2 separate regions of the Homo sapiens genome follow, and region 2 is linked to region 1. Evidence: fine-mapped expression QTL. A gene starts in region 1. The other region holds a variant in brackets. All regions are shown on one strand. Distances are from middle to middle.

Region 1 (15,452 bases):
TCACTGCATCCCGAGGACTCGTAGATGTTCCTTCCACAGCCCGAGTCTCTTCTGGAAACGTGGCCAGGGCAGGAAGGCTCTGCAGATCCATCTCTCTAAGTGGCCATGTCTTTAGTCAGAGGTTCGGAGAAGTTCATGTAGATAGGCTGTTCCCCTGGCTCCTCAGGGACCCTCTGAGACCCCTTCAACCAGAGGATGGCAGTGACCAAGATGAGCAAGATGGGCACCTTCACAAATACCAGGAGCATGTAGTGGTTCCTGGGGAAGGGGATGCAGTGGTCAGAGCCCTGGGCATCCCCAGGCCATGTCACTCCCATCCCCTGACCCTGTGAGCCACCAGCCAAAGCCTGTGACCCTGGGCCGGGCAGCCCCACTCTGAAGATTCCTGTAAACCTCCTCCTTGGTTCAACCTCAAGGGGTCCTCCAACAGTCACCTTGGCTGGTTTTGCACGGGGCCCATCTTCCTTTCTAACATCACCTTCTGGGACCCTCTTTGCCCAAAGTACATCTCAGCTCAACAGAAGCGCCAGAGGTCACCAAATACAGGTTGTGTTTCCTGCCTCTGTTCCTGCTAATGCTAGCTCCAGGCTGGTAAATCACCCTTCCTGTTCTGTGTCCCTTGATGTCTTGCACCACAGAGGGTGGTATCTTATCTCCCCCTGGCACCCATTAGGCCACCAATGCAAGGTTGACTGATTGACTGGGAGAATGATGCTCACTGAGAAGAGTTCTGCAGAGCGGTTTTCTGGTGAGAGCTAGAGTGGGGAGATGGTGGATTGCAGTGATGGGGGCAGGAGAGAGATGGAGGGTGGGCTTGGGGCCTTGACTCTGGCTAGAACAGGTGCTGGCATTTGGTGACAGGCAGGAGTTCCCAGGCTTGGCTTCCCCTTAGGAGGGACCCCAGGTAGGGGCAGGAGAAAGAACCACATGACTCACCTCTTGTGGGAGCCGATGAACACTGCCATATTGCTGTTGGTAGGTGAGCTTGCTGTTGTGGAAGCCGCTCCCTCTAGACACAGGCAAAGTCAGCCATGGGTTATTAGCACAGTTGGGAGCTCATGCATGGGTCACAAAGCCACGCGACCCTGCCAGCCCTCACCAGAAGACCCTTTTCCCTGGAGTAGGAGGATTTTTCTCTCCTGCTACAGCCCCTCATGCTTCTACTGAGTCACTTCAATCTCAACACACAGACATTTTTCCTCATCATGTTCAGATGTGGCAAGAAAAATTAAAAATTAAACAGGAGTAAACACTGTAGTTTATTCTGGGAGAGAGAGGTTTTTTCATACTTTCTTTCCACCTATCCTGCAAGTGGGACTATTGGATGGGGAAATAAATTTCTGGTCTTTTCCACTGGAGTGGTGCCTGAGCAGGGCTTAAGGAGAGAAGATTCTGGAAATGGGCTGTCCAGAAATTGGGGTAGTCCAGAAAAAGGGAAAGGGGACTCCAGAAGGCTCATGAAGAAAAGGGCACACTCCAGTTAACTAGAGAACATCGACTATGAGAAACGGAACATTTTTAGGAGCAACCATATAGGCAATTTGTTGGGGGCAGTCTGGTCAGGGGGGCCCTGAGCCCAGCCCAGCACTGAGTATCCATGACCCAACAGTGATCTTTTATTTCAGTCCTCGGCCCCAGCAAATTTTTCTCAAAGGTCCCAGGCTGTCCAGGCACGGTGGTTCACGCCTGTAATCCCAGCACTTTGGAAGACCAAGGGAGGCAGATCGCTTGAGGCCAGGAGTTTGAAACCAGCCTGGGCAACATGGTGAAATCCCATCTCTACAAAAAATACAAAATGAACCAGGCGTGGTCATGTGCCCCTGTAGTCCCAGCTACTCAGGAAGCTGAAGTGGAAGGATTGATTGAGCCCAGGAGGTCGAGGCTGCAGTGAGTCAAGTTCACCCCACTGCACTCCAGCCTGGGCTACAGACTGAAACCCTGTCTCAAAAAACAAACAAAACAAAATAAAACAAAACAAAACAAAAAAGTCCCAGGCTTTGGCCACACTAGGTGGGCTCCTGTCTGAGCTGCAGGTAATTCCAATCACAACAGTTCCTATGGAGCCCCTGATCGTTTTACAGGCTGGTACCCCTGTAGATCCCCCACCCAAGACTCCGGAACATCTCTCTCCCTAAAGCTCCACACTGGCCACTGTTTTTTGTCTCTTTGTACCGCCTGCATGTCTTGCTCAATCCCCTCTCTGCCCCCATAGATATTCTGGGTTTCCCCTACTTGGCAGCCCTGGGGAAGTCTTGCTTGACCCTTTCTGGACTCCTCTTTACTCAGCTGCAGCCACTGTGTCCATGTGCCTCTTTGGTCCCAACCCCAACAGTACACAGGCTTGTTCTAAAGCCGGCATTGTCTATTTCCACATCACCACCAAATGGACCCGAGTGGACACTGAGCTGATGAAGTACTGAGTAGGGGTGTGCGGGTGGAAGTGGGGGTTGGGGGCTGCTTCCCAGACTCCAGCAACAGCAGCAGGATGACCCCAGAGTCTATCAGTAGAGTCCAAGGCATGGAGGAGAAGCCAGGGCACCCAGAGTGGTCCCTGACGTTGCCCGTGATGGAAGCCATCCTTTTGCTTTAAAGCGTCCACTGTCACCCATGCACCTCCCTGGGGCTTTCTTACCCCGTGCTCATCTTACACAGCCAGATAAAGTAGCGGAGCAGGTGGCTGGGGACCTAGAGAGGAGGGTGTTGTAAGACACCCAGAGCTACTCTGGGTTGGTGCAGTTAGTGGGACTCAATACTAGGACCCCCTGGGCAGCTCTAGGTTCCTTCTCTGCCATGTCATGAGCAGGGCTGGGCCACCAGTCACCAAAGCTGAGGTCCCCATTCCCACCCCCATCCCAAGCCCCACCTGGATTCCTTGGAGAGACCTCAGGGACTGAGATAGCAGAGCGATGCTGGCCACCACTCTCCCTTAGTTTCTGTCACCTCCTTCCCAGTCAGTTTGTCTGCCTGTCTGTCTGTCTGTCTCTCTCTCTCTCTCTCTTAGGCTCACCATCATTCCCTTTCAGCCTTGGAGGGGAGCAGGTAAGAGCACTGACTTTCCCAGCCCTGAGCTCCAGGGCCTCCTTGTGTAGATGAGAAAGTTCTTACCTGGGTCAACGATCACTTTCACTTGAGTCCCAAGGTCAGGTCCTCTTCTTTCAATCCCACACCAGTAAACATCTGCGTCATCTCGCCTGAGCCCCTCCATGGTCACAGTGAACGTGCGGTCTTTCTGATTGTCCTTGATGGACACACGGTCACTCTTCTCTCCTTGCTCCGACCCTCTGGTTTCAATGAGGATCTTGCATGTATCCCAGCGCACCCCTCGGCACCACCACTTAATGTAGGTCTCCCATCCTTGCTTATAGTGGCATTGAACCGTCAGGGACCCCTGCTCTGGGGCTCTCACAGACTCTGGGCCTTGGATGGAGAAACAGCCTGGAAAACAGAATCCCAAGATACAGCTCATTGCACCGGCACGAACCCCTGCTCTGGGGCTCTCACGGACTCTGGGCCTTGGATGGAGAAACAGCCTGGAAAACAAAATCCCAAGATACAGCTCCTGTTGCCTGAGCCAGTTTGGTGTTTAAGAGTCCCGAGTGTGTCTCTAGCACACCCGATTCCTCATCCCCATCTCCCTCTCAGTCCATTCCCCCACCAGCTTCTAGACCTGCTTAGCATGTGACACCATGGTCTCCTACCACCTTCTTTCCTTGTCCTCTCAATGCTGTTTTCATCGGAGCCAAATATTTAACAACCAGCCCTCTGGGGGAAAAAATCTCTGGTTTAGGAGCTGGGCACGGTGGCTCACACTTGTAATCCCAGCACTTTGGGAAGCCAAGGTGGGCAGATCACCTGAGGTCAGGAGTTCGAGACCTGCATGGCCAACATGGTGAAACCCAGTCTTTACTAAAAATACAAAAATTAGCTGGGCGTGGTGGCAGTCACCTGTAGTCTCAGCTATGCGGGAGGCTGAAGCATGAAAATTGCTTGAACCCGGGAGGCGGAGGTTGCAGTGAGCTGAGATCGCACCACTGCACTCCAGCCTAGGCAACAGAGTGAGACTCTTGTCTAGAAAAAGAAAAAGAAAAAAAATCTGGTTTTAATATTTGCCAAATTCCATAGTGTAAATACTCCCACGGTGGCAGATGTCAGGTAATCCATGTGATGTCACTGGACACAGAGCTGGGAAAAGATGTCCCAAGCCAGCTCCTGTGAGCCAGCCCCAGCACACTGCGGGGGTACCCAGGGTTCCCTCTCCAGCCTTCATCTTGTCTCACCTGACAAGCCTCCATGGAGGGAGTCTCTCCATTTCCATGGCTTTAATGATTACCTGTTTCCTGATGATTCCCAAATCCATATTTGCAGCTCAGACTCCCCTTAGCTAGCCCACCATTTACAAAGACACACTGGATGTCTCCACCCCAGATTCCTTCGTTGCAGAATTGAATGCACTTCCTCTCCCACCCTGAACTACTCTTCTTCAGTATTTTTTTCTAGTGGAGCAATTGGATGTGGCAAGAGTAACAAAGGCCTGGTGAAAGCTGAACAGGTTAGAGGTGAGCATAATCAAATGGCAGTCCGTGCCTCCGCTGATTGACTCCAGTTAGGCTGTGTGTAGATAGGCTCTTTCCTTGGCAATGACACGGGTTTCTTGATCACGCAGAAGTGGATAAACAGGCAGAGAATCACAGGGGAAGCCTCTCTTGACTGTCTCTTGGCCTCAGAGCTTCAGGCCCAGGCCAGGGGTCTCTGCAGGGTGGAGAAAGCCAGGTCTATTTCTCCAGGCAGATGCCGCCTCCTCACAGCTTGGGCCTTCTCCTTGAAGCTGTGTTAGTTTTCTTGAACTTTGCATTCGTGGTTGGTAGAATAATGTCCCCCATAGCTGTTGGCATCCTCATACACAGAACCTGCGAATATGTCCCCTGACATGGCCAGAGGGACTCTGCCGATGTGATGAAGTTAAGGACCTTGAGACAGGAAGAATATCCCGAATAATCTCCATGGATATTCTAAGTGAAAGAGGGTTGAGGGAGAGTCCAATTGGAAGATGGTCTGTTGCTGCTTTGAAGTGGAAGAAGAGGCCACCGGCCAAGGAAAGCAGATGGCTTCTAGAAGCTGGAAAATGCAGGGAAACAGATTCTCCCCTAGAATAGGGGTTCCCAACCCCAGGACAACAGACTAGTAACAGCCCATGGCCTGTTAGGAACCGGACCTTACAGCAGGAGGTGAGCGGTGGGCAAGCAAGCGAAGCTTCATCTGTATTTACAGCCACTCCCCGTTGTTCAAACTACCACCTGATCTCCGCCTCCCATCAGACCAGCGGCCGCATTAGATTCTCATAGAAGTGAGAACCCTATTGTGAACTTCGTGTGTGAGGGATCTAGATTGCACACACTTTATGAGACTCTAATGCCTGATGATGTGTCACTGTCTCCCATCACCCCCAGATGGGATCATCTAGTTGCAGGTAAACAAGCTTAGGGCTCCCACTGATTCTACATTATGGTGCAGTGTATAATCATTTCATTATATATTATAATATAATAGTAATATAAAGTATACAATAAGTGTAATGCGTTTGAATCATCCCAAACCATCCTCACCCCACTCCTGATGTGGAAAAATTGTCTTCCACAAAACCGGATCCTGGTGCCAAAAAGGTTGGGGACCACTGCTCTAAAGAAACCCAACCCTACTTGCACCTCAATTTTAACCAGTAAGACCACGCCAGGCTCTGGTCTTCAGAAGCATCAATGAGATGATGAAATTGTGCAGTTCTAAGCCATAGAGTTCATGTTAATTTGTTACAGCAGCCACTGGAAATTCACATGGCATTCAATCAGCAGAACCAACTTGATTCTCTTCAAACCAGCAGCTCCACCACCCAGCCTTCAGGAAGAGCTTGGCATCTTCTTTCATGCTGTCCTCTCCTTCAGCCCCCGAGCTGATTGGTAGCCAGTTTAGTCAGCTCTATCCTAGAGATGCTCCTCAGTTTTTTTTTTTCTTCTTTCAGTCTCTGCCATCGCAGGCCACAAGGACAGCATGACATCAGAGAGAGTGTGAGCTTTGATGCAGAAAGACTTGACACTGAACTAGTTGGGAAACCCTGGCAGAGTTGCTTAACCTCTGCAAGTATCGCTTCCTTATTCATAAGACAGTCATGCTACGCTCTACTTTGAAGGTGGTAATAGGACTTGGATGTGTGTAGGCTGGGCAAGGTGGCTCATGCCTGTAATTCCAAAGCTGTGGGAGGCTGAGGCAGGAGGATCGCTTGAGCCCAGGAGTTCCAGACTAACCTGGGCAACATGGTGAAACCCTGTGTCTGCAAATGCAAAAGATTAGCCAGGAGTGGTGGTGCATGCCTGTGGTCCCCACTGCTTGGGGGGCTGAGGTGGGAGGATCGCCTGAGCCTGAGAGTTCAAGGCTGCAGTGAGTTATAATCGCCCACCACTGCACTTCAGCCTGGGTGACAGAGTGAGACACTGTCTTCAAAAAATTATTTATTTTTAAATTTAAAAGAAGACTTGGATGTATGTCCAACGCCAGACATTTGGGGTTTGCTCTGTCAGTGACAGCTCATCAACAGGTCAGAACTTCATCTGTGCCTGGATCATGGCAGTGGCATCTGGAGAGGTCTTCCCAGCCCCAGCAGCATCCTCCCCAACTCTCCTCTCCTGAGGATTATGGCCTTCATAATCTTGTCTTTTGTGTTTCCAACCTCATATCCAACTCGCCACCCCCAAGATGTCCTGCACACTGACAGCTCCCTCAGCTTTCCTCTCCATACTGCTGCCTGAGTTGGGTACTGAGACTGTCTCCTCCTCCTCATCAGCTGCACTTGCCCTGAGCATCTAAAAGTCTTTTCGGGGCCGGGCACGGTGGCTCATGCCTGTATTCCCGCACTTTGGGAGGCCAAGGTGGGTGGATCACCTGAGGTCAGGAGTTCAAGACCAACCTCACCAACATGGTGAAATCCTGTCTCTACTAAAATTACAAAAATTAGCCAGGCATGGTGGCAGGCACCTTAATCCCAGCTTCTTGGGAGACTGAGGCAGAAGAATCACTCGAACCTGGGAGGCGGAGGTTGCAGTGAGCCAAGGTTGCACCACTGCACTCCAACCTGGGTGACAGAGTGAAACTCCGTCTCAAAAACAAAAAACAAAAACAAAAACAAAATACCCAAAAACATAAATTGGATTTGTCAGCAATCACTAACAGCAGAAAAGAGATGCTGCTGCATTGAACAAAGTGTCATCAATCCCAGCTTCAGTCATTCAAACTGTAAATGGCTCACGATGTAATTAGTCCCGTTTAAAAAAATATTTGGGGGTTTCTCTAACCACAGAATATGATGGCTGGAACTATTAATCAGGCTTCTATATGTTGTCAAGAGTTGGTATGAGGAACGATAGAGATGGAAATGACAGGGCAGCCGTCAGCTTGGAGCAGAGCCCCGTTGAACGGGCTGAAGGGTGGAAGTCCAGCCAGGACTGGAGTCGGGTCTCAGAACTCCCCAGCCATGCTCTTTCCTGTTGTCCCTCCGTGGACTGCTCTATCTGTGCCAGATGGTCAGTCCCTAGGCACCAGCAGAAAACTGTGTGGCCCACACACATTGCACACCCTGCGTAAAATTCTAGATTGTCCCCTAATGCCCTCTAGGTGTCCACCAAGGTTTGCCATGGAGAAGATCATCTAGCCCTTCCCACTTTCCACCTGGGTTCTTGAGAAGTTTTTTCTTTGAAAGTCTCAGCTCCTGAGCCTGGCGTGGATGGCCTTCATAATCTTGTCTTTTGTGTTTCCAACCTCATATCCAACTCGCCACCTCCAAGACATCCTGCACACTGACAGCTCCCTCTGCATGAATCCACCATTCTTTCTAAGCCTCCATCTCTCTGCCCAGGTCCCCCAACACACACACACACACACACACACACACACACACACACACACCCAACTCTCTAGAGTGTTCTCCTCTCAGCTCTGCTCCAGAGACTGACCTTCCTTCTACAAGGCACATCAAGTGCACAGCTTCGTGAGTCTTTCTCTAGTCACCAGAGAGAACTGCTTCATCCTCCGCACACGCCTCCACCAATGCCTTATTGTGTCCTGCAATTGCTCATTGTTTATGTGTATGTCTCACCCACTAAGCCATCTGGAGTCTTTTTACTTTATTTTTTTTTTGAGACAAGGTCCCACTGTATCACCCAGGCTGGAGTGCTGTGGTGCGATCATAACTCTGCAGAATTGAATACCTGAGCTCAAAGGATCCTCCAGCTTCAGCCTCCCAAGTAGCTGGGACTACAGGCACGGTCACCACGCCCAGCTAATTTTTGTTCATTTTATATAGAGACGAGGTCTCACCATGTTGCCCAAACTGGTCTTAAACGCCTGGACTCAAGCAATCCTCCCACCTTGGCCTCCCAAAGTGTTAGGATTATAGGTGTGAGCCATGGCCTCAAGCCTGGAGTCTTCTTTAATGGCCAGTTCTCCTCCTCTTTTTTCTTGATGTCCTCAGGCCCCGAAGCACACGATGTCAGTCCCCAGTGCACCTTTGTCGAATGACTTCACAAAGCCACCTCTCATTTCCCTGGATGTGGAAGGACAAATGCCCTCTGCCTCCTGCCCTGCCCCTGTCATACCAAGCGCCCAAGGCCCCAGCCCCACTCACCTGAGAGGCTGAGAAGGAGCAGAGCAGGGGGCAGCCACATGGCTCTGCCTTCCCGGCTCCTCGTCCGCCTGATCTGCAACCAGTGGCAAATGCAGATCCCAGATGCACTCTGGAAGTTCTGCCTGAGCTCTGGCTTGCACCTTCTGCACATCTAGACCGCCTTTGACTTTCTTACTCATTCACTTCCTTTTATAGAGTGGGTAGTTCCTGCTTTTAATTATTAAACGAAAGAGGTGTCATTTTTTGGCAGGGCTGCGCCACAGGGCTTAAGCATCGTCACTATGTAAAAAAGAGGAGGGAGGGGACTGTGCAGGGTCTTTAGGGTAGGGGGAGATACGTCTGCAGAAGGGGTGGGGTGGGGGGCGTCTGGCCTAGCAGGCCTTGGGTCCAAGGGGTATAACACTCTGGGAGTCAATTTCAGAGCTGTTCTATACCACAGTGAACACCCAACTCAGATGTCGGATGGGTCATGCTGGGCACACCTGAACATGCATTTGTTCAGGTGTTATAGCCAAGTGCATAAACATGCAGACTGTTGGGTCAGACAGACCTGGCTCTAACCCCACGAGCACCACCTACAAGCTGCGTGACTGTGGACAATGCAATCAACATCTCTGTGCCTCAGTTATTGTATCTATTAACTGGGCTCATAATGTTTGTTGTTGTTATAGGAGTTATTAAGAAATTATTTTAGGTAGATAGGAAAAGGGGTGCTTGGGAAGATTTTTTTTTCTTTTAAAGCAGCTCCATAAATGTTTCTTGTCTAGAAGAAAAGCCCTGGCTCTTAGAGCTGGGCAGGCAAGCTTTGATATGCAAATACAGGCCATTAGAAACTGCGTCCACCCAAACATGGAGACTCCCGCCTCTTCTTCTTTTCCCCACGTTCCTGGCAACATGGCCGCCCCTACATACACCCATGTGTGTAGAACATCATGGCGCCTGTATTTGCATATTAAAAGGCTAGGGTAGGAAGGCTAGTTTTTTCGTGGGCTACTTGAATGACATACCTGGTCAAACCAATCCCCTGGGCCCTATGCAAATCAGGTACCGCCTCCTCCAGCCTCCTCATATAACTGGCTGTTTTCCACCGTACTCGAGGTTCCCTCTTTCAGCTTGGAGCCCGCCTCCCTCAGTCTCAGAACAGGGGGAGCCTCTTCCTTCCTTCTTTCTTGTCTATTAAATTCTCCACTCCTTAAAACCACTCCACGTGTGCCCATGTTGTTTTATTCAAACCAGTGGGAGACCAAGGACCCTAGTGTTCCTCCAGTCATCAGAGCCATACCATTTTGTTGCATTGGCCGGGAATCCAAGGTACGACACTCATCGGAGTGGTAAGTATGGGAGTGAGCTTAAAATCTCTTCTATCATTCCGAGGCACTCTTAGCCTCTATTTTAAAATAAAATAAGTCAATGGGCATCCGTCAGCCGGGTACATACACTTAGTGTTGGCTGCCATACTGAAGACTCGAATGTGAGGCTTGCTGCTGAGAACACGGAGAACCCCCCAACACCCCTGGGTCATTGGGAATGTTGGCCATGTTTTAAATCAGCTTCTTTTCACGGGAAGACCTCGCCATTGTGCAAGGCTGGGAAAAGTTCTAAGGCAACTAACAATTTCTGGCCAGAGCACACCCTGGCATGATTCAAAGGCCCCTGGACTGGACCCAGCCTCTGGCGGCCCATTCTGGGTGTTGGCAAAGAATCCTCAACTATCTTGTCACAAAACTCTCCTTCCTTCTCTATCTGCGGTCTCTTACACTTTCTTTGTGTGAAATGTGTAGCGAGTTTTACAGCCTAGGAAAGTAATCCTGTTAGGCAAAATCAGGAAGATGCCCTTGCAATCTTCTAGGAACAGAGTTCTCCCCTTTCTCCCACCGTGAGGTTACTCACTACCACGTCTCTAGTGAGCACATAGTATTTCTAAGCCAACAGTGCCACCTAGTAGAAATAGAAATCCTCTACATAAAGCATATTTTTTCATGGCAAACCGCAGCTTCTTTTTGCATGATTAGAAATCAGGCTCGGCCAGGCGCGGTGGCTCATGCCTGTAATCCCAGCACTTTGGGAGGCCGAGGCGGGCAGATCATGAGGTCGGGAGATCGAGACCATCCTGGCTAACACAGTGAAACCCCGTCTCTACTAAAAATACAAAAAAAAATTAGCCAGGCGTGGTGGCGGGCGCCTGTAGTCCCAGCTACTCGGGAGGCTGAGGCAGGAGAATGGCGTGAACCCGGCAGGCAGAGCTTGCAGTGAGCCGAGATCGCGCCACTGCACTCCAGCCTGGGCAACAGAGCAAGACTCGGTCTCAAAAAAAAGAAAAGAAAAGAAAAGGAAAGAGAGAGAGAGAGAGAAAGAAAGAACAAGAAAAGAAAAAAGAAAAAGAAATCAGGCTCTAGGCCTCTTCTTGAAATGGGAAAGTTCTGCCTTTAGCAGTTAGGAGTTAAGAAGTCTTCCATAGCCAAATTTTAGTCTCAATATTGTCCCATTGGCAGGAAAATGGCCATTCGGTTCCTACATTCCTTTAAGGCACCTATTCTGTCTCCGATTAAGATGGTACTTAATTAGTAAGGGGATTTTTAAGTCCAGAAGTTAACCAGAACCATTTTTCTAAGGGTAAATGCTTTAGCACAGGCCATAATAATAGCAAGATATAAAGTTCAATCTAGCACGCCCCCTCCCTTAAAGAGGCTTTGCCCAATTATGTAGTTTTTCTTTTTTTTTCTTTTCTTTTCTTTCCTTTTTTTTTTTTTTTTTTTTTTTTTTGAGATGGAGTCTTGCTCTTGCCACCCAGGCTGGATTGCAGTGGTATGATCTCAGCTCACTGCAACCTCCACCTCCCGGGTTCAAGTGATTCTCCTGCCTCATCCTCCCAAGTTGCTGGAATTACAGGTGCCCGCTACCATGTGTGGCTAATTTTTGTATTTTTAGTGGAGACAGGGTTTCACCATGTTGGCCAGGCTGGTCTTGAACTCCTGACCTCAGGTGATCCACCCACCTTGCCCTCCCAAAGTGCTAGAATTACAGACATAAGTCACCACACCTGGCCCGTAGTTTTTCTTAAAATCGTTGTTTTTTTGTTTTGTTTTTTAGGGAAGCACACAGGTCACACAGGAGGTCAAAAAGAAATAAAAGACTAAGGTGCTTGTGGAAGTGTAAGTGGGCCCAGAAGTCTAGTTTCTCTGGTGCCATGGCTTGGAGGGTCACGCCTGCAGTCATGGCCAGCACATTTAAATGGGTGCCAGGATCCAGGAACCAGGGAAAGAAAATAGTTGGGGGAACGCCCCCTACTGTGTTCTCCATCCTGGATCACATACTGAAAGGAAGGAGACTAAAATAATGCTTTTATTCTCACTTCTCTTTCTAGATGGGTAACAGATCGTCTTCTCTGCACTCCAACCTGGGTGACAGAATGAGGCTTCATCTAAAAAAATTAATATAATGAATCACATTAATAGAATAAAGAAGAAAACCCACATAATCATGTAAACGCACAAAAACCACTATCTGAAATCCATTACTTTTCATGATAAACTAGGAATTAAAAGGTGCCTATAAGCAACCCATTACAACCCATGGCAAAATCTTTCCTTTAGAATCAGGAAGAGGACAAGATTGCTCAAAATCACTACTTTGATTCAACACTTTGATTAGCCTGCACAATACAACAAGAAAGAGAAACAAAAGACATGAGAATTAGAAAGAAAAACAAAGCTCTAAATTATTCTAGATTAATTGATTATCTACATATAAAACTGAAAACAATTACTAAGATTTTTTGCAGAGTTGCTAAATATATATAATCAGTAAGGATCAATTGTTTATCTACATGCATGCAATGAATAACTTGAAAATGCAATAAAAGATGCCACAAAATGGGGCGGGGCGCGGTGGCTCATGCCTGTAATCCCAGCACTTTGGGAGGCTGAGGCAGATGGATCACGAGGTCATCAGTTCAAGACCAGCCTGACCAACATGGTGAAACCCCGTCTTCACTAAAAATACAAAAAAATTAACTGGGCATGGTGGCAGGCACCTGTAATCCCAGCAACTTGGGAGGCTGAGGCAGGAGAATCACTTGAAACCAGAAGGCGGAGGTTGCAGTGAGCCGAGATTGCACCACTGCACTCTAGCCTGGGCAATAAGAGCAAAACTCTGTCTCAAAAAAAAAAAAAAAAAAAGCCACAAAATAAGAATAAAAACATAAAATATCCAGAATTACACTTAACAAATATATGAGCAAATATCAAGGAGAAAATAATAGAATGTTATTAAAAGACATTTTAAAAGCTCATAAATAATTAGAATTACATACCATGTTCATAGACAGAGAAATTATTATAAAGATAAATTTCATACATTTACATTTAAAGTCTCAACATAATTTTTTTTCTTTTTTAGTACGTTGACTGGTTAATTCTAAAATTTCTGCAGAAGAGGAAATGGCCAATATTTGCAAAGACATTCCCAATATCAAAGAACAATGTATAGTGACATGACTTACCAGATAACAAGACATTTAAATACAGCTATAGTAATTAAAACAATGTTGTCTTGGTTCCAAAATAAGCAATTAGGCAAATTCAACATAATAGAGTGGTTAGAAAAAGGTCCAAGCAGACATAGAAATAAACACCTGCCAGGGGTTGCATTGCAGATTGCTGGGAAAATGTGGATAATGCTTATCCAAATGGAAGACAGAAAAATGGATTATTATCTCAGCCTAGAAACAAAATCATTTAGAAATGGGTCAAGGACTTACCTGTGAAAGGGAATATTTAAAAAATTTTAGAAGAAGATATAGGATAATTTTTTTTTAATTTGGGAGTATCCATAATTGGTTAAGCAAGATGAAAGTATAAACCATTAAGGAAAATGAATAATTTGTACATTAAAGTGAAAATCCTGTTTCTCAAAAGATATCATAAAGCCAATAGCCCAGGAAAGTATATGTGGAGCACCAGTAACTAACAAAAGACTTGCAAAGAACTTCTACCAATTGGATCATGAGGTCAGGAGATCGAGACCATCCTGGCTAACATGGTGAAACCCCGTCTCTACTAAAAATTCAAAAAATTAGCAGGACGTGGTGGTGGGCGCCTATAATCCCAGCTACTCGGGAGGCTGAGGCAGGAGAATGGCATGAACCCAGGAGGCGGAGCTTGCAGTGAGCCGAGATCACGCCACTGCACTCCAGCCTGGGCAACAGAGCGAGACTCCGTCTCAAAAAAAAAAAAAAAAAAAGAACACAGACAAACAACAGAAAGTAGATGAAGATTAGAAGAGGCATTTCTCAAAAGAGAAAATTCAGATAACCAAAAAACACATGAGCATGAGTTTAACATTAGTAAGCAGAGAAATTCAAATTAAAACAATGAGATACCATTTCATACCCATTAACTTGAACAAATTTAGAAAGTCTGATAAGATTCAAGCAGGAGCACTGCTGATAAGAAGCAAAAATTGGTGCAGTTACTTTGGAAAATAATTTGCGCTTGCCTAGTAGAGCTGATTACACACATGCAGCAAAACCTAGCAATTATTCCCTTAGAACTCTACTCTAGGAGACACTTTTGGACAGACAAAATTAGGATATATGTTCATAATAACGTTATAAGTAATGGCAACACAAAAAGAAGAGAAGGAAGAAAAGGAGGAGGAGGAAGAGAAAAAAGAAGAGGAGGAGGACCAAGAGGTAGGAAGAGCAGGAGGAAGAGGAGGAAAAAAAGAGGGAGGAAAAGAAAAAAGAAGAAAAGGAGGAGGAGGAGGAGAAGTAGGCAGAAGAGTAGGCAGAAAAGAGTAGAAAGAGGAGAAAGGAGGGACAAGAGGAGGAGGAAGAGGAAGGGGAAGACGAGAGAGAAAGGATAGAGAAAGAGAAGGAGGAAAATAAGAAGAGCACAAAAAAGAGAAAGAAAAGAAACAACCTAAATGCCTGTTTAAGAAAGAGGGATGTGCGAGTTATGGTATGCTCATACAACAGAATGTAGACCAATACAAAGAAGTGACACATCAGTGCGTCAACACATCAACATGGATGAATCTCAAAAATAAAGTGTTGAATGGTCCAGGCACTGTGGCTCACACCTGTAATCCCAGCACTTTCGGAGGCTGAGGCGGATGGATCACGAGGTCAGGAGATGGTAAAACCCCTCTCTACTAAAAATACAAAAATTTAGCCGGACATGGTGGCACATGCCTGTAGTCCCAGCTACTCAGGAGGCAGAGGTGGGAGAATCGCTTGAACCTGGGAGGCAGAGGTTACAGTGAGCCGAGATCGCACCACTGCACTCCAGCCTGGGTGAAAGAGTGAGACTCCATCTCAAAAAAAAAAAAAAGTGTTGAAAGATAAAGTCTGATTGCTTAGAAATAAAAATGCCTAATACTATTCACAGAAAGTTCAAAAATAAACAAAGCTAAACAACATACCCTTTGGAAATCCATATGCATGTATGTGGCAAATCCCTTAAAACAAGATGATGATGAACATAACAATCGGAATGTGAGCCAGGTGCTGTGGTGCATGCCTGTAGTCCCAGCTGCTCCAGAGGCTGAGACAGGACCAAGGCTTGAGCCCAGGAGTTCAAATCCAGCCTGGGTAACATAGTAAGACCCATCTCTATAAAAAAAGATACAATAAAATAAAATGTAGGATGTGGTTTTCTGAGAGAAGGATAGAAAAGAAATTGCATAAGATCAGCAAGCGGTTTGGGGCTTCATGAGTATGAATGATGTTCTATTACTTAAACTGGATGGTGGGCACACACAGGTTAAAGAGTATTCTTGGTGT
Region 2 (15,452 bases), 26 kb before region 1:
TAATGTCTACCTCTTTATTTGGCAGTCTTATATGGAATTTATGTAGAATGTTGCTTTGAATCTTCTCAACTAATTCCCATTCTGATTTTTTTCAACTTAAAAATTTTTATTTTTATTTTTTGAGACAGGTTTTCACTCTCTTGCTCAAGCTTGAGTGTAGTGGTGCAATCATAGCTCACTGCAACCACAACCTCCTAGGCTCAAGCAATTCTCCCACCTCAGCCTCCCAAGTAGCTGGGACTACAGGCACATACCACCATGCCCAGCTAATTTTTTTGCTTTTGCTTTGTGTATGTATGTGTGGTTTTGTTTTGTTTTGTTTTGTTTTGTTTTGTTTTGTTTTGTAGAGACAGGGTCTCACTATGTTGCCCAGGCTGGTCTTGATCTCTTGGGTTTAAGTAACTCCCACCTCAGCCTCCCAAATTGCTGGGATTACAGGTGTGAGTCACTGCACCTGACCCCATTCTGATTTTTTAAAAATTTATGAATAAATAACCTATTTAGACATTTTGAATCAGAGGTACGTGGACCCAACTAATCATGTGGTTACTATCAGGAAGCCAGGACCAGGAATAGTGGTTAGAAGAAGAACCAAGTCATCCATTCATCCATCCATCCATCCATCCAGTAACGAATATGTATGATATTTTTCCTATATGGGGACACAGTCTAGAAGGAGCTTGGAGACCAGTTGGGGAGCCTGATAACATTAAGTGTCAAAATGTTACTACAAAATGTCCTGAGTTACAATGATAGAGAAAGTCAAGGAGTCCTGGGAGCAGGCAGGACAGGCACATCCCACTGTGGTGGAGGGCAAGTAGGCACCTGTGTAGCTTCCTGAAAATGGCTCTTGGATGGTGGATGGAGTCTTACAAGATAAGCAAGCCGGGTGCCTCTAAAGCAAAGTGCATGGCAAGAGGTTTGGATGAGGCAGGGCCTGGGGAGGAAGAGCTGGCCACTCCTTCCTGTTGGAGCAGAAAGGGGAGGCCTCGAGTGGTGGGAAGTGAGGGCGGAGGGAGAGGCCAGCTCACAGAACATCAGCTTCACTGACAGGCTTCAATTTCATTTTGCAAACAATTTAGAAGCCATTAAAAGTTTTTTTTTAGGCCAGGCGTGGTGGCTCACGCCTATAATCCCAGCACTTTGGGAGTCTGAGGCAGGCAGATCACCTGAGGTCCGGAGTTCGAGACCAGCCTGGCCAACGTGGTGAAACCCTGCCTCTACTAAGAATACAAAAATTAGCCAGGCGTGGTGGCGCATGCCTATAATCCCAGCTACTCAGGAGGCTGAGGCAGGAGAATTGTTTGAACCCAGGAGACGGAGGTTGCAGTGAGCCAAGATCACACCACTGCACTCCAGCCTGGGTGACACACTGGACTCGATCTCAAAAAAAAAAAAAAAATTTTTTTTATATTAACTACAGAAAAAAGATCTATTTGTTGTAAAAAAAAAAGTTAGAAAATACAGACAAAAAGAAGAAAATAACAATGTTCATATATCTACATTTTTTCCTTATAAAATATGGGTTCAAATAACATATACTCTTAAAATTTGTATCATGTTCCTTTTATGGATGTAATGTAATTTATTTAACCATATCTTTACTGTTGGGGATTTAGGATGTTTCTAGTTTCTTGCTATTATAACCAATTATGTGACCATTCTTGCACATAATTATTTCTTTAGGATACACTCTTAGAAATGTCTCGGCCCAGGGGTAGTATATTCGATAGGATTTGGGTGCAATTTATTCTCCTATCAGCCTGGTATGGAAATATCCTTCAGCATATCCCATGGCCAACATTGGGAATGGTGCCTTTAAAAAAATGATTTAAACTTCTGCCAATTACAAATAAATAGTTCTCATTGCTTTTAAATAAATACCATTAATTCTGGCCGGGTTCTGTGGCTCACGTCTGTAATCCTGGCACTTTGAGAGGCCAAGGCAGGCAGATCACTTGAGGCCAGGAGTTTGAGACCAGCCTGGACAACATGGTGAAACCCCGTCTCTACTAAAAATACAAAAAGTTAGCCAGGCATGGTGGTGCATGCCTGTAATCCCAGCTACTCGTGAGGCTGAGGCAGGAGAATCGCTTGAGCCCAGGAGGCGGAGGTTGCAGTGAGCCAAGATCATGCCGCTGCACTCCAGCCTGGGTGACAGAGCGAGACTCCATCTCAAAAACAAACAATCAACAATAACAACAAAAAGAATAACATTAATTCAGAAAAGTGTGTATCGTTCCATATCCAGATGATGTCTCTTAACACACACACAAAAAGAAAAGTAAAAATTATTTAATTAGCCAGGCGCGGTGGCAAGCTCCCATAATCCCAGCTACTGGGGAGGCTGAGGCAGGAGAATTGCTTGCACCTGGGAGGCAGAGGTTGCAGTGAGCCGAGATCGCGCCATTGCACTCCAACCTGGGTGACAGAGCAAGACTCCATCTCAGGACAAAAAAAAAAAAAAATTTTAAACCCATGTGCAATGGACAGAAAATTAAAACAGTACAGGAAGTTATAAAATTAACAAAAAAGTCTCCTTCCTCCTACCCTACCCCTAGTACCATTCCACAAAAGTGACTACTGTTAGCCATTTCTTACACAGCTTTCAGAAAACTTATTATTATTTCAAAATTATTTTCAAAAGGGCTAATCCAGGCGCAGTGGTTCACATTTGTAATCCCAGCACTTTGGGAGGCCGAGGCAGGCGGATCACCTGAGGTCAGGAGTTCAAGACCAGCCTGGCCAACTTGGTGAAACCCTGTCTCTACTAAAAATACAAAATTAGCCAAGTGTGGTGACACACACCTGTAATCCCAGCTACTTGGGAGGCTGAGGAAGGAGAATCGCTTGAGCTCAGGAGGCAGAGGTTGCAGCGAGTCAAGATCGCGCCACTGCACTCCAGCATGGGCGACACAGCAAGACTCCATCTCCAAAAAAAGTGGGGGGAGGGGCTCATAATTCTTCATACCTCACTTTTGCATATGTCCTAGAGACCTTGTTATACAAGTACACACAAATCTACCTCATTCTTTTATATGTGATTCCACAGTTTTAATTCATTCCGTTATTTACTCATTTACTTGATGACTTTTATTGAATACCTACTATATACCATGGAGCTATACAGCAGAGACATAGCAGTGAAGAAGATAAATGAGGCCCCTTCTGTCTGGTCCTTGTATCTTAGTGGGCAGTAGACAGAACAAACAAAACAAAAGCAAGCTTCGTTCAGATCATCACAGAACTGCTGTGTGAAGATCTGAATTGTGTACAGCTGAGAGTGATGAGAGGCAGGAAGGGCTGCTTGCATAGGGAGGTCATGGAGGGACTTCCTGACATTTGAGCTGAGACTTGAGAAGGAGCCAGCCACACAATAATATAGAGTGAGAGCATTCCTGGCAGAGGAAACAGCTCAGGCAAAGGCTCTAAGGGGGAACAAGGCTAGTGTGTCCCAGGCTTAGGGTGCCGGCCAGATGAGTACAGAGTAGACAATGTGGGGAGCTTGGTGGGAGGCAGACGCAGAAAGGCAGAGGCAGGCAGTGGTCAGATCAGGGAAGGGTTAATACGCAAATGTGTGGATTTTGTCCTAAGTGGAAACTCTGAAAAATTTCAAGCAAGGGAGTCACACAATGGCACCTTGGAATGGGGTGGTGGATGTGGCCATTGGAGAAGGTGGACAAGCTCAGAATGCATTCTGGCCGTAGAGCCAACCCAACAGGCTGAAGGATTGGATGTGGGAGGGAGTGAAAAGAAAGGAATAAAAATTGCAGGTGACTTCTACGGTTTTCACTTGAGCAATTGGGAGGGCAGTAAAGGTGGGTCCCTTTACGGAAATGGAAAGACTAAGAGAGCAGCAGTTTTGGGGTGGAATTGGGGAGAGGAAACAGGGACTCTGTTGGGCGTACAGATGCTCAAATAAAGATGACAAGCCCCCTATTGGCTGTATGAGTCAGGCGCTGGGGGAGGGACTGGAGCTGTAGGTGCACAATGCATGCCGATGTATCTGTGTGTCATACAAGGCCCCATGTATGACTGCGTGTGTATACACATGCACAGATGCACACATTGTTATGTCATCCCAGACCATGTTTTTGTATTTTTGTACCTGTATCTTGGTATATATCTGAGTATATCTTTTTTTTTTTTTTTTTTTTTTTTTTTTGAGACAGAGTCTTGCTCTGTTGCCCAGGCTGGAGTGCAGTGGTGTGATCTTGGCTCACTGCAACCTCTGTCTCCCGGGTTCAAGCGATTCTTCTGCCTCAGCCTCCCAAGTAGCTGGGACTACAGGCGTGCACCACCACACCCAGCTAATTTTTGTATTTTTAGTAGAGATGGGGTTTCACCGTGTTGGCCAGGCTGGTCTCGATCTCCTGACCTCGTGATCTGCCCACTTCAGCCTCCCAAAGTGCTGGGATTACAGGCGTGAGCCACCACGCCTGGCCTATCTGAGTATATCTTTAGGAGAAATTTCCAATAGTGGAGCATTAGTCAAAAGGTCCATGAATTGACTTTTTTTTAATAGATCTTGACAAATTTTCCTTCAAAAAGCTCTTGCCCACTGTCATGCCAAGCGTCAGGTTCCAGCCCATGTTGAGGTCTGAGGGGAGTGGGTGGATGGGTGGCGAATAGCGGAAGGAATATTTAGGGGGCTGTAGGCAGGTAAAATATGGTTTTATTCAGCAGCTTTTTCATCAGCAGTTTTTTTTATATACTTTAAGTTCTAGGGTACATGTGTACAATGTGCAGGTTTGTTACATAGGTATATATGTGCCATGTTGGTTTGCTGCACCCATCAGCTCGTCATTTACACTAGGTATTTCTCCTAATGCTATCCCTCCCCCAGCCCCCCACCCCTTGACAGGCCCCGGTGTGTGATGTTCCCCACCCTGTGTCCAAGTGTTCTCATTGTTCGATTCCTACCTATGAGTGAGAACATTCGGTGTTTGGTTTTCTGTCCTTGTGATAGTTTCATCAGAAGCTTTCTCATACAATTCACCTTTATCTCGGCTGCCTGCTCCAGCTTTGCGGCTCTTGCCATTCCCAGGCTTACAGCTGCATTCCCTGGCCTACAAGCCTGGCTCTCCCTTATGGGGTCAGCAGTTTTACTCTCTGCCTCTGGGCACAAGCCATGCCGAACCACATGTACAGCGTCAGCAGGGCAGTTATACCTTTTACAGACAATAGTGGCTCTGAGCCACTTACACAAACAGATTACATAACAAGTGGAGTTATGCGCCTGCGCGCCAGACTCCCTGAGTCACGCTGGCCCTGATGTTTGCCTCTGCCTGTTTTGTTTTTGTTTTTGTTTTTGTTTTTTGAGACGGAGTTTCGCTCTGTCGCCCAGGCTGGAGTGCAATGGTGCAATCTCGGCTTACTGTAACCTCCGCCTCCCAGGTTCAAGCGATTCTCCTGCCTCAGCCTCCCGAGCCACCACACCCAGCTATTTTTTTTTTTTTTTTGTATTTATAGTAGAGATGGGGTTTCACCATGTTGGCCAGGCTGGTCTCAAACACCTGACCTCTGGTGATCCACCCGCCTCAGCCTCCCAAAGTGTTAGGATTGCAGGCGTGAGCCACCGCACCTGGCTAACCTATTCTTGACCAAAGCACATCCATGTACCTTACACCCACTTACCTTCCCATCAAGAACACTCAACGATGTCCCTTTCCCTACACTCTCGCCAGTATTGGATATTTTCACACTCTATTTTCTTTTCAATCTGATAGAAGAAAATAATATCTTATAATTTTCAGAATTTGCATTCCTTTATTTGCCATTTTAGTTTTTTTCCTGTGAACTATCCATTTGCCCATTTTGCCATTGAGCTTTTAATCTATCTTACTGAGTTCCTCCGAGTGCTTTGTAAATTAAGAAAATAAGCTCTCTGTCAAATTGCCTGCAACATTTCCTTCATAGCTTGTCATTTTTTAAAAAACTTTCAAAGGTGTTTTCACCCAGTGATGTTTCATCTTTTTTCTGAGGTCAGATTTCTCAATCATTTGCTTTATAAAGTTTGAGTTTTCCTTAGGATGCTCCATTTCAAGAGTCTAATAAATTCACCCATTATTCTAAAACTTTTGTAAATTTCATTTTATATTTTCAGTTTATTCTAAAACTTGCAGTTTTCAGTTTATTCTAAAACTTTTAAATAGTCTAAGACTTTAGAAAGATTTCAGTTTATTCTAAAACTTGTGTAGTTTCTTCGTATTTAAATCTTTGATCCATTTGAAACTATTTTGGCTTACAGAGTGCGGTATGAACAGAACTTGAGTTTGTATAAGACTTAGCCAGCTGTCTCTACATCACTGATTGAGTAACCCCTCGTGTCCCATGCATAGTCCTAGGCGCCACTGTGCTGGATCAGAAGCGAAGGGAGAAGGTTAAGTGACTCACTCAGTATTTGACCACAACACTGCTTAGCTCAAAAGTCCACCTTGCTGCCCCCTTTTAGTTAAAATGAGCCTGTTAGTGAGACCCTTGATTTTTTTAGCTTTTTTTATTTTTAGTTTTTCTGGGTCATAGTAGGTGTATATATTTATGAGGTGCCTCGGGAGCATTCTGGACCATCACAGACGCTTTGGGTAACTCTTACATTGGAGGGTAAGCCCATCCCCTTCTTAATCAATACGGAGGCTACCCACTCCACATTACCTTCTTTTCGAGGGCCTGTTTCCCTTGCCTCCATAACTGTTGTGGCTATTGACGACCAGGCTTCTAAACCTCTTAAAGCTCCCCAACTCTGGTGCCAACTTGGACAACATTCTTTTATGCACTCCTTTTTAGTTATCCCCACCTGCCCAGTTCCCTTATTAGGTGAGGCATTTTAACTAAATTGTCTGCTTCCCTGACTATTCCTGGGCTATAGCCACACCTCATTGCTGCCCTTTTCCCCAGTTTAAATCCTCCTTCGCATCATCCCCTTGTGTCTCCCTACCTTAATCCACAAGTATAGGACACCTCTACTCCCTCCTTGGTGACCGATCATGCACCCCTTACCATTCCATTAAAACCTAATCACCCTTACCCCGCTCAACACCAGTATCCCATCCCACAGCACACTTTAAAAGGATTAAAGCCTGTTATCACTGGCCTGCTACAGCATGGCCTTCTAAAGCCTATAAACTCTCCTTGCAATTCCTCCATTTTACCTGTCCAAAACCCGGAAAAGTCTTACAGGTTAGTTCAGGATCTGCACCTTATCAACCAAATTGTCTTGCCTATCCACACCGTGATGCCAAACCCATATACTCTCCTATCCTCAATACCTCCCTCCACAACCCATTATTCTGTTCTAGATAAATGTAGCTGACCCCATAGATCCTAAATCCTTTCCCCACTCCTCTTTCCATTCCTTAAAAAACTCATCCCAACCCTTTTCATTACACACAGCTGAAGTACAGGACTGTGTGGTCGGAATTCTTACACAAGAGCTGGAACCACGCCCTGTAGTCTTTCTGTCCAAACAACTTGACCTTACTGTTTTAGCCTAGCCCTCATGTCTGCGTGCAGCGGCTGCCACTGCTTTAATATTTTAGAGGCCCTCAAAATCACAAACTATGCTCAACTCACTCCGTACAGTTCTCATAACTTCCAAAATCTATTTTCTTCCTCCCACCTGATGCATATACTTTCTGCCCTCCGGCTCCTTTGGCTATACTCACTCTTTGTTGAGTCTCCCACAGTTACCATTGTTCCTGGCCCAGACTTCAATCCAGCCTCCCACATTATTCTGGATACCACACCTGACCCCCATGACTCTATCTCTCTGATCCACCTGACATTTATTCCATTTCCCCATCTTTCCTTCTTTCCTATTCCTCACCCTGATCACACTTGGTTTATTGATGGCAGTTCCACCAGGCCTAATCACCACTCATCAGCAAAGGCAGGCTATGCTATAGTATCTTCCACATCTATCATTGAGGCTACTGCTCTGCCCTGCTCCACTCCCTCTCAGCAAGGCGAACTCATTGCCTTAACTCAGGCCCTCACTCTTGCAAAGGGACTACGCGTCAATATTTATACTGACTCTAAATATGCCTTCCATATCCTGCACCACCATGCTGTTACATGGGCAGAAAGAAATTTCCTCACTACACAAGAGTCCTCCATTATTAATGTGTCCTTAATAAAACCTCTTCTTAAAGCTGCTTTACTTTCAAAGGAAGCTGGAGTCATTCGCTGCAAGGGCCATCAAAAGGCATCAGATCCCATTGCTCAGGGCAACTCTTATGCTGATAAGGTAGCTAAAGAGGCAGCTAGTTTTCCAACTTCTGTCCCTGATGGCCAGTTTTTCTCCTCATTGGTCACTCCTATTTACTGTCCCACTGAAGTTTCCACCTATCAATCCCTCTCCACTCAAGGCAGATGGTTTTTAGACAAAAAAAAAATCTCCTTCAAGCCTCACTAGCCCATTCTATTCCTGTCGTCATTTCATAACCTCTTCCATGTAGGTTACAAGCCATTAGCCCGCCTCTTAAAAACTCTCATTTCCTTTCCATTGTGAAAATCTATCCCCAATCCACCACTCTTGACTCCCTCTTGGAGTGGGTAGATGATCTTTGCTGACAGGACACACTCCAATACTCTCACCCTTATGAAGTCCTGTTCTTTACTTTTATACTCACTCTTATTCTTGTTCCCGTTCTTATGCCACCCTCTCTACCTCTTCGCAGCTATCTCCACCACACTATCAATCTCACTCACTCTCTCCTAGCTGTTTCTAATCCTTCTTTAACAAACAATTGCTGGCTTTACATTTCTCTTTCCTCCAAAATCAATGAGGCCCCGACTTACTCACTGCTAAAAAAAGGGGGACTCTGTATATTTTTAAATGAACAGTGTTGTTTTTACCTAAATCAGTCTGGCCTGGTATATGACAACATAAAAAAACTCAAGGATAGAGCCCAAAAACTCACTAACCAAGCAAATAATTGCGTTGATCCCCCTTGGACACTGTCTAATTGGATGTCCTGGGTACTCCCAATTCTTAGTTCTTTAATACCTATTTTTCTCCTTCTTTTATTCGGACCTTGTGTCTTCCATTTAGCTTCTCAATTCATACAAAACACATACAGTCCATCACCAATCATTCTGTGCAACAAATCCTACTTCTAACAACCCCACAATATCACCCCTTACCCCAAAATCTTTCTTCAGTTTAATCTCTCCCACTCTAGGTTCCCATGCTGCCCCTAATCCCACTCTAAGCATCCCTGAGAAACATCGCCCATTATCTCTCCATACTACCCCCCAAAATTTTCGCCACCCCAACACTTCACCACTATTTTGTTTTGTTTTTCTTATTAATATAAGAAGACAGGAATGTCAGGCCTCTGAGCCCAAGCTAAGCCATCATGTCCCCTGTGACCTGCACATATACATCCAGATGGCCTGAAGCAACTGAAGATCCACAAAAGAAGTGAAAATAGCCTTAACTGATGACATTCCACCATTGTGATTTGTTCCTGCCCCACCCTAACTGATACGCTATATTCTCCCCTGCCCTTAAGAAG[G/A]TACTTTGTAATATTCTCCCCGCCCTTGAGAATGTACTTTTTATGCCTATCCCAAACCTGTAAGAACTAATGATAATCCCACCACCCTTTGCTGACTCATTTTTTGGACTCAGCCTGCCTGCATCCAGATGAAATAAACAACCTTGTTGCTCACACAAAGCCTGTTTGGTGGTCTCTTCACATGGACGTGTGTGACAATCTCATTGAGTTTTGAGTTGCATTTCTCTGATGATCAATGATGTTGAGCACGTTTTCATATACCTGTTTGCCTTTTGTAGATCTTCTTTGAAAGATGTCTATCAGATCTTTTGCCCATTTTTTAATTAGATTATTATATTTTTTCCTACTGTGTTATTTGGGCTCCTTACATATTCTGGTTATTAATCCCTTGTCAAATGGGTGTTTGCAAATATTTTCTCCCATTCTGTGGATTGTTGCTTCATTTTGGTGATTGTTTCTTTTGCTGTACAGAAGCTTTTTAACTTGATGTGATCCCATTTGCCCATTTTTGCTTAGGTTGCCTGTGCTTGTGGAGTATTACTCAAGAAATATTTTCCAAGTCCAATGTTCTGGAGAATTTCCTCAGTATTTTCTTTTAGTAGTTTCACAGTTTGAGATCTTAGATTTAAGTATTTAATCCCCACCCCCTTTTTTTTGTGAGACAAGGTCTGGCTTTATCGCCCTGTCTGCAGTACAGTACCATGATCTCAGTTCACTGCAACCTCTATCTCCCAGGCTCAAGCCATCCTCCCACCTCAGTCTCCCCAGTTCCTGGGACTACAGGCACATACACCATGCCCAGCTGTTTTTTGGGGTTTTTTTTGTTTGTTTGTTTTAGATGGGGTTTTGCCATGTTGTCCAGGCTGGCCTTGAACTCATGAGTTCAGGTGATCTGCCTGCCTTGGCCTCCTAAAGTGTTGGGATTACAGGCATGAGCCACCACACCCGGCCTCTTTAATCCATTTTGTATATGGTGAAAAACAGAAGGGTCTGGTTTCATTCTTCTGCATATGGATATACCATTTTCCCAGCATGATTTACTGAGGAGACTGTCCTTTCCCCAGTGAATGTTCTTGGCACTTTTGTCAAAAATGAGCTTAGTGTAGATATGTAGATTTATTCTTGGGTTCTTCATTCTGTTCCATTGTTCTATGTGTGTTTTCATGCCAGTACCATGCTGTTGTGGTTACCATATCTCTGTAGTATAATTTGAAGTCAGGTAATGTGATTTCTCCAGTTTTGTTCTTTTTGCTCTGGTTGACTTTTGCTATTCTGGGTATTTTGTGGTTCCATATAAACATTAGAATTATTTATTCTATTTCTGTGAAAAATGTCTAATATTTTTATAGGAATTGCATTGAATCTGTAGATTACTTTGGGTAGTATGGACATTTTAGCGATGTTGGTTCTTTCAATGCATTAACATGGAATATCTTTCCATTTTTTTGTATCCTCTTCAATTTCTTGCATCAGTGCTTTAGAGTTTTCATTGTAGAGATCGTTCACTTCTTCACATTTATTCCTAGGTATTTTATTTTATTTATAGCTATTGTAAATGAGATTACTTTCTTGATTTCTTTTTCAGGTTGTTCATTGTTGGCATACAGAAATGCAAATGATTTTTGTGTGTTGATTTTGTGTCCTGCAACTTTACTGAATGTGTTGATCAGTTCTAATAGCTTTTTGGTGGAGTTTTAGGTTTTTCCAAATATAAGATCATATCTGCAAACAAGGATAATTTGACGTCTTCCTTTCCAATTCAGATGCCTTTATTTATTTATCTTGTCCAATTGCTCTAGCTAGGACTTCCAGTACTATGTTGAATAACAGTGGTAAAAGTGAGCATCCTTGTCTTGTTCCAGATCTTAGAGTAAAGGATTTCAATTTTTGCCCATTCTGTATGATACTAACTGTGGGTCTGTCATATATGGCTTTTATTATGTTGAGGTATCTTCCTTCTATACCCAGTTTTTTGAGGGTTTTTCTAAATCATGAAGGGATGTGGAATTTTATCAAATACCTCTTCAGCATCAATGGAAATGATTGTGTGGCTTTTGTCCTTCACTCTGTTGATATGATGTATCACACTGATTTGCATATGCTGAATCATACTTGCATCCTTGGGATAAATCCCACTTGGTTATGATAAATGATGTTTTCAATGTGTTGTTGAATTTGTTTTGCTAACATTTTGCTGAGAATTTTTGCATCAGTATTCATCACAGATGTTGGCCTGTACTTTTGGTTTTTTTTTTTTTTTTTTTTTTTTTTGATATGACTTTGTCTGGTTTGGGTGTCAGGGTAATACTGGCCTTGTTGAATGAGTTTGGAAGTATTCCCTCATCCTCTATTTTCCAGAATAGTTTGAGTAGGATTGGTATTAGTTCTTTAAATGTTTGGTAAAATTCAACAGGGAAGCCATTGAGTCCCAGGCTTTTCTTTGCTCAGAGACTTTTTGTCATGGCATCCTGTTACTTGTTACTGGTCTATTAAGGTTTTGGATTTCTTCATGGTTCAATCTTGGTAGATTGTATGTGTTTAGGAATGTATCCACTTCTAGGTTTTCCAATTTATTGGCATATAGCTGCTCATAGTAGCCTCTAATGATCCTTTTAATTTGTTGATATCAATTGTAATGTCTCCTTTTTCATCTCTGACTTTATTTATTTGGGTCTTCTCTATTTTTTTCTTTTTTAGTCAGGCTAAAGACTTGCCAATTTTGTTTATCTTTTCAACAAAATGACTTTTAGTTTCATTGATCTTTTGTATTTCCTTCATTTCCATTTCATTTATTTTAGTTTCATTGATCTTTTGCATTTGCATTTTCTTCATTTCAATTTCATTTATTTCTGCCCTGATCTTTATTATTTCTTTATTTCTACTAATTTTGGGTTTGCTTCACTCTTGCATTTCTAGTTCTTTAAGATGCATCATTAGGTTGTTTATTTGAGGTTTTTCTACTTTTTTTGATGTAGATACTCAATACTGCTTTCACTGTATCCCATAGATTTTATTGTGTTGTGTTTCCATTTTCATTTGTTTCAAGAAATTTTTAAATTTCCTTCTTACTTTTTTTCATTAACCCACTAGTTATTCAGGGGCATATTGTTTAATTTCCATGTTTTGTATAGTTTTCAAAATTCTTCTTGTTATTGATTTCTAGTTTTATTCTTTGTGGTCACTGAAGACACTTGATATGATTTCAATTATTTTGAATATTTCAAGACCTGTTTTGTGGCCTAACATATGGTCTATCCTTGAGAATGATCCATGTGCTGAGGAGAAGACTGTGTATCTGCAGCTGCTGAATGAAATGTTCTTTTAAATATCTATTAGGTCCATTTGGTCTATAGTACAGATTAAGTCCAACGTTTCTTTGTTGATTTTCTGTCTGGATGCACTGTCCAATGCTGAAAGTGTAGTGTAGAAGTCTCCAGCAATTATTGTATTGAGGATATATTATTTTAGCTATAAAGATATTTGCAATATATATCTGAGTGCTCCACTGTTGGGTGCATATATACTTACAATTGCTATATCCTCTTGTTGAATTGATTTCTTTATTATTATATAATGTTCTTCTTTGTCTCTTTTTATAGTTTTGTCTTAAAATCTATGTAATGTGATATAAGTATAGCTATTCATACTCTTTTTTGGTTTCCATTTGCATGAAATATCTTTTTCGATTCCTTTAATTCACCTATTTATGTCTTTATAGGTGAAGTGTGTTTCTTGTAGGCAACAGATCTTGGGTCTAGTTTTTCTTTTTAATCCATTCAGCTGCTCCATGTCTTTTGACTGAAGTGTTTAGTCCATTTACATTCAATGTTATTATTGATAACTAAAGACTACTCCTGCCCTTTTGTTACTTGTTTACTGGTTGTTTTCTGGCCTTCTCTTCCTTCCTTCTTTCTTTTCTTCTTGTCTTCTTTTTACTGAAGCTGATTTTGTCTGGTGATATGTATTAATTTCTTACTTTTTATTTTTTGTGTATCTGTTGTATGTGTATGTTTTTGAGTTGATATTACCATGAGGCTTGGAAATAATATCTTATAACTCATTATTTTAAGCTGATGACAACTTAACACTGATTGTAATAACAAGCTAACAAACAAGCAAATATAAGGCTAATAGAAAAAAACTCTACACTTGAACTTCATCCCCCCACTTTTTAATTTTTTGTTGTTTCTATTGATACCTTATTATACTCTCAATGTCTTAAATGTTGCTTTAGGCTGGGTGCGGTGGCTCACACCAGTAATCTCAGCACTTTTGGAAGCCAAGGTGGGCAGATCACTGGAGCCCAAGAGTTCAAGACCAGCCTGGGCAACATGGCAAAAACTTGTCCCTCCTAAAAATACAAAAAATAGCCGGGTGTAGTGGTGTGCACCTGTAGTCCCAGCTACTCAGGAGGCTGAGGTGGGAGGATCACTTGAGCCAGGGAGGCAGAAGTTGCAGTGAGCCAAGGTCATGTCACTACACTCCAGGCCTGGACAACAAAGTAAGACCCCATCTCAAAAAAAAAAAGCATAGTTATTATTTTTTATATATTTTATAGGTTCTTCTTTTAGTCTTTCTACTCAAGATATAAGTGATTTACACACAATTTCAGGGGTTAGAATCTGTTTTTCTGTGTACTTACTATTAATAGTGAGATTTGTACCTTCAGATGATTTCTTACTGCTCATTAACATCCTTTTCTTTAAGATTGAAGAACTCCCTTTAGCCTTTAGCACTTCTTTCTTTTTTTATTTTTATTTATTTATTTGTTTTAAGATGGAGAGTCTCACTCTGTCACCCAGGCTGGAGTGCATGGCACAATCTCAGCTCACTGCAAACTCTGCCTCCCGGGTTCAAGTGATTCTCGAGCCTCAGCCTCCCAAGTAGCTGGGATTACAGTCATGCACCACCATGCCCTGCTAATTGTTGTATTTTTAGTGGAGACAGGTTTCACCATGTTGTCCAGGTTGGTCTCAAACTCCTGACCTCAAGTCCCTTTAGCATTTCTTATAGGACAGGTCTAGTGTTGATAAAATTGCTCAACTTTTGTTTGTCTGAGAAAGTATTTCTCCTTCATGTTTGAAGGGTATTTTCACTAGATATACTATTCTACGATAAAAGTTTTTTCCTTCAACACTTAAATACCACTCTCTCCCAGCCTGTAAGATTTCCCTCAAGAAGCCTACTGCCAGAAGTTTTGGAGCTCCCTTTTATGTTACTTATTTCTCTTCTCTTTCTGTTTTTAGGACCCTTTTTTTTATCCTTGACTTTTGGGAGTTTTTTTATTAAGTGTCTTGAGATAGTCTTATTTGGGTTAAATCTGCTTGGTTTCTGGAACCTTCTGGTATTTGAACACTGATATCTTTATCTAGGTTTGGGAAGTTCTCTGTAATTATCCCGTTGATAAAACTTTCTATCCTGATCTGTCTCTACCTTCTCTTAAGGCCAGTAACGCTTAGATTTGCCCTTTTGAGACTATTTTCTAGATCTTATAGGCATGTTTCATTCTTTCTCATTCTTTTTCTTTTGTCTCCTCTGACTCTGTATTTTCAAATAACCTGTCTTCAAGCTCAGTAATTCTTTCTTTGGCTTGGTCAATTCTGCTGTTAGGAGATTCTGATGCATTCTTTGGTGTGTCTATTTCATTTTTCAGCTCTGGAATTTCTGCTTAATTCTTTTTTATTATTTTGATCTCTTCATTAAATTTATGTGATAGGATTCTGAATTCCTTCTCTGAGTTATCTTGGATTTCACTGAGCTTCCTCAAAACAGCTATTTTGAATTCTCTGTCTGAAAGGTCCCTGTTTCTCCAGGATTGGTCCCTGGTGCCTTATTTGGTTGTTTGCTGAGGACATGTTTTCCTGAATTGTCTGACTGGCCCTGTGGCCTGAGTCACATTTCAGCTGAAGTCCCAGGCTGCTGCCAACACCTCCA

What was found. PIP is the estimated chance that this variant, and not a neighbour inherited with it, causes the effect.
Region 2: its variant is fine-mapped to the expression of CD300LB in whole blood (TOPMed, PIP above 0.99).

Annotation. Positions count from the first base shown.
Region 1 is chr17:74,522,643-74,538,094 of GRCh38, forward strand. It overlaps CD300LB (CD300 molecule like family member b), which reads right to left and starts at 8,833. Exons shown (of 4, transcript NM_174892.4): 1 at 8,669-8,833; 2 at 3,106-3,435; 3 at 937-1,009; 4 at 1-258. The coding sequence starts at 8,708. The coding sequence ends at 96. LOC107985074 (a long non-coding RNA gene) reads left to right here. Exons shown (of 3, transcript XR_007065902.1): 2 at 9,905-9,999; 3 at 12,033-12,237. It also overlaps a transcript of CD300C not described here. RefSeq lists an enhancer at 5,883-5,952.
Region 2 is chr17:74,496,706-74,512,157 of GRCh38, forward strand. No RefSeq gene overlaps it. Among named protein-coding and RNA genes, the nearest start is that of CD300LB, 27 kb to the right of the region's middle. The variant G/A (reference allele first, on the strand shown) is at 9,519.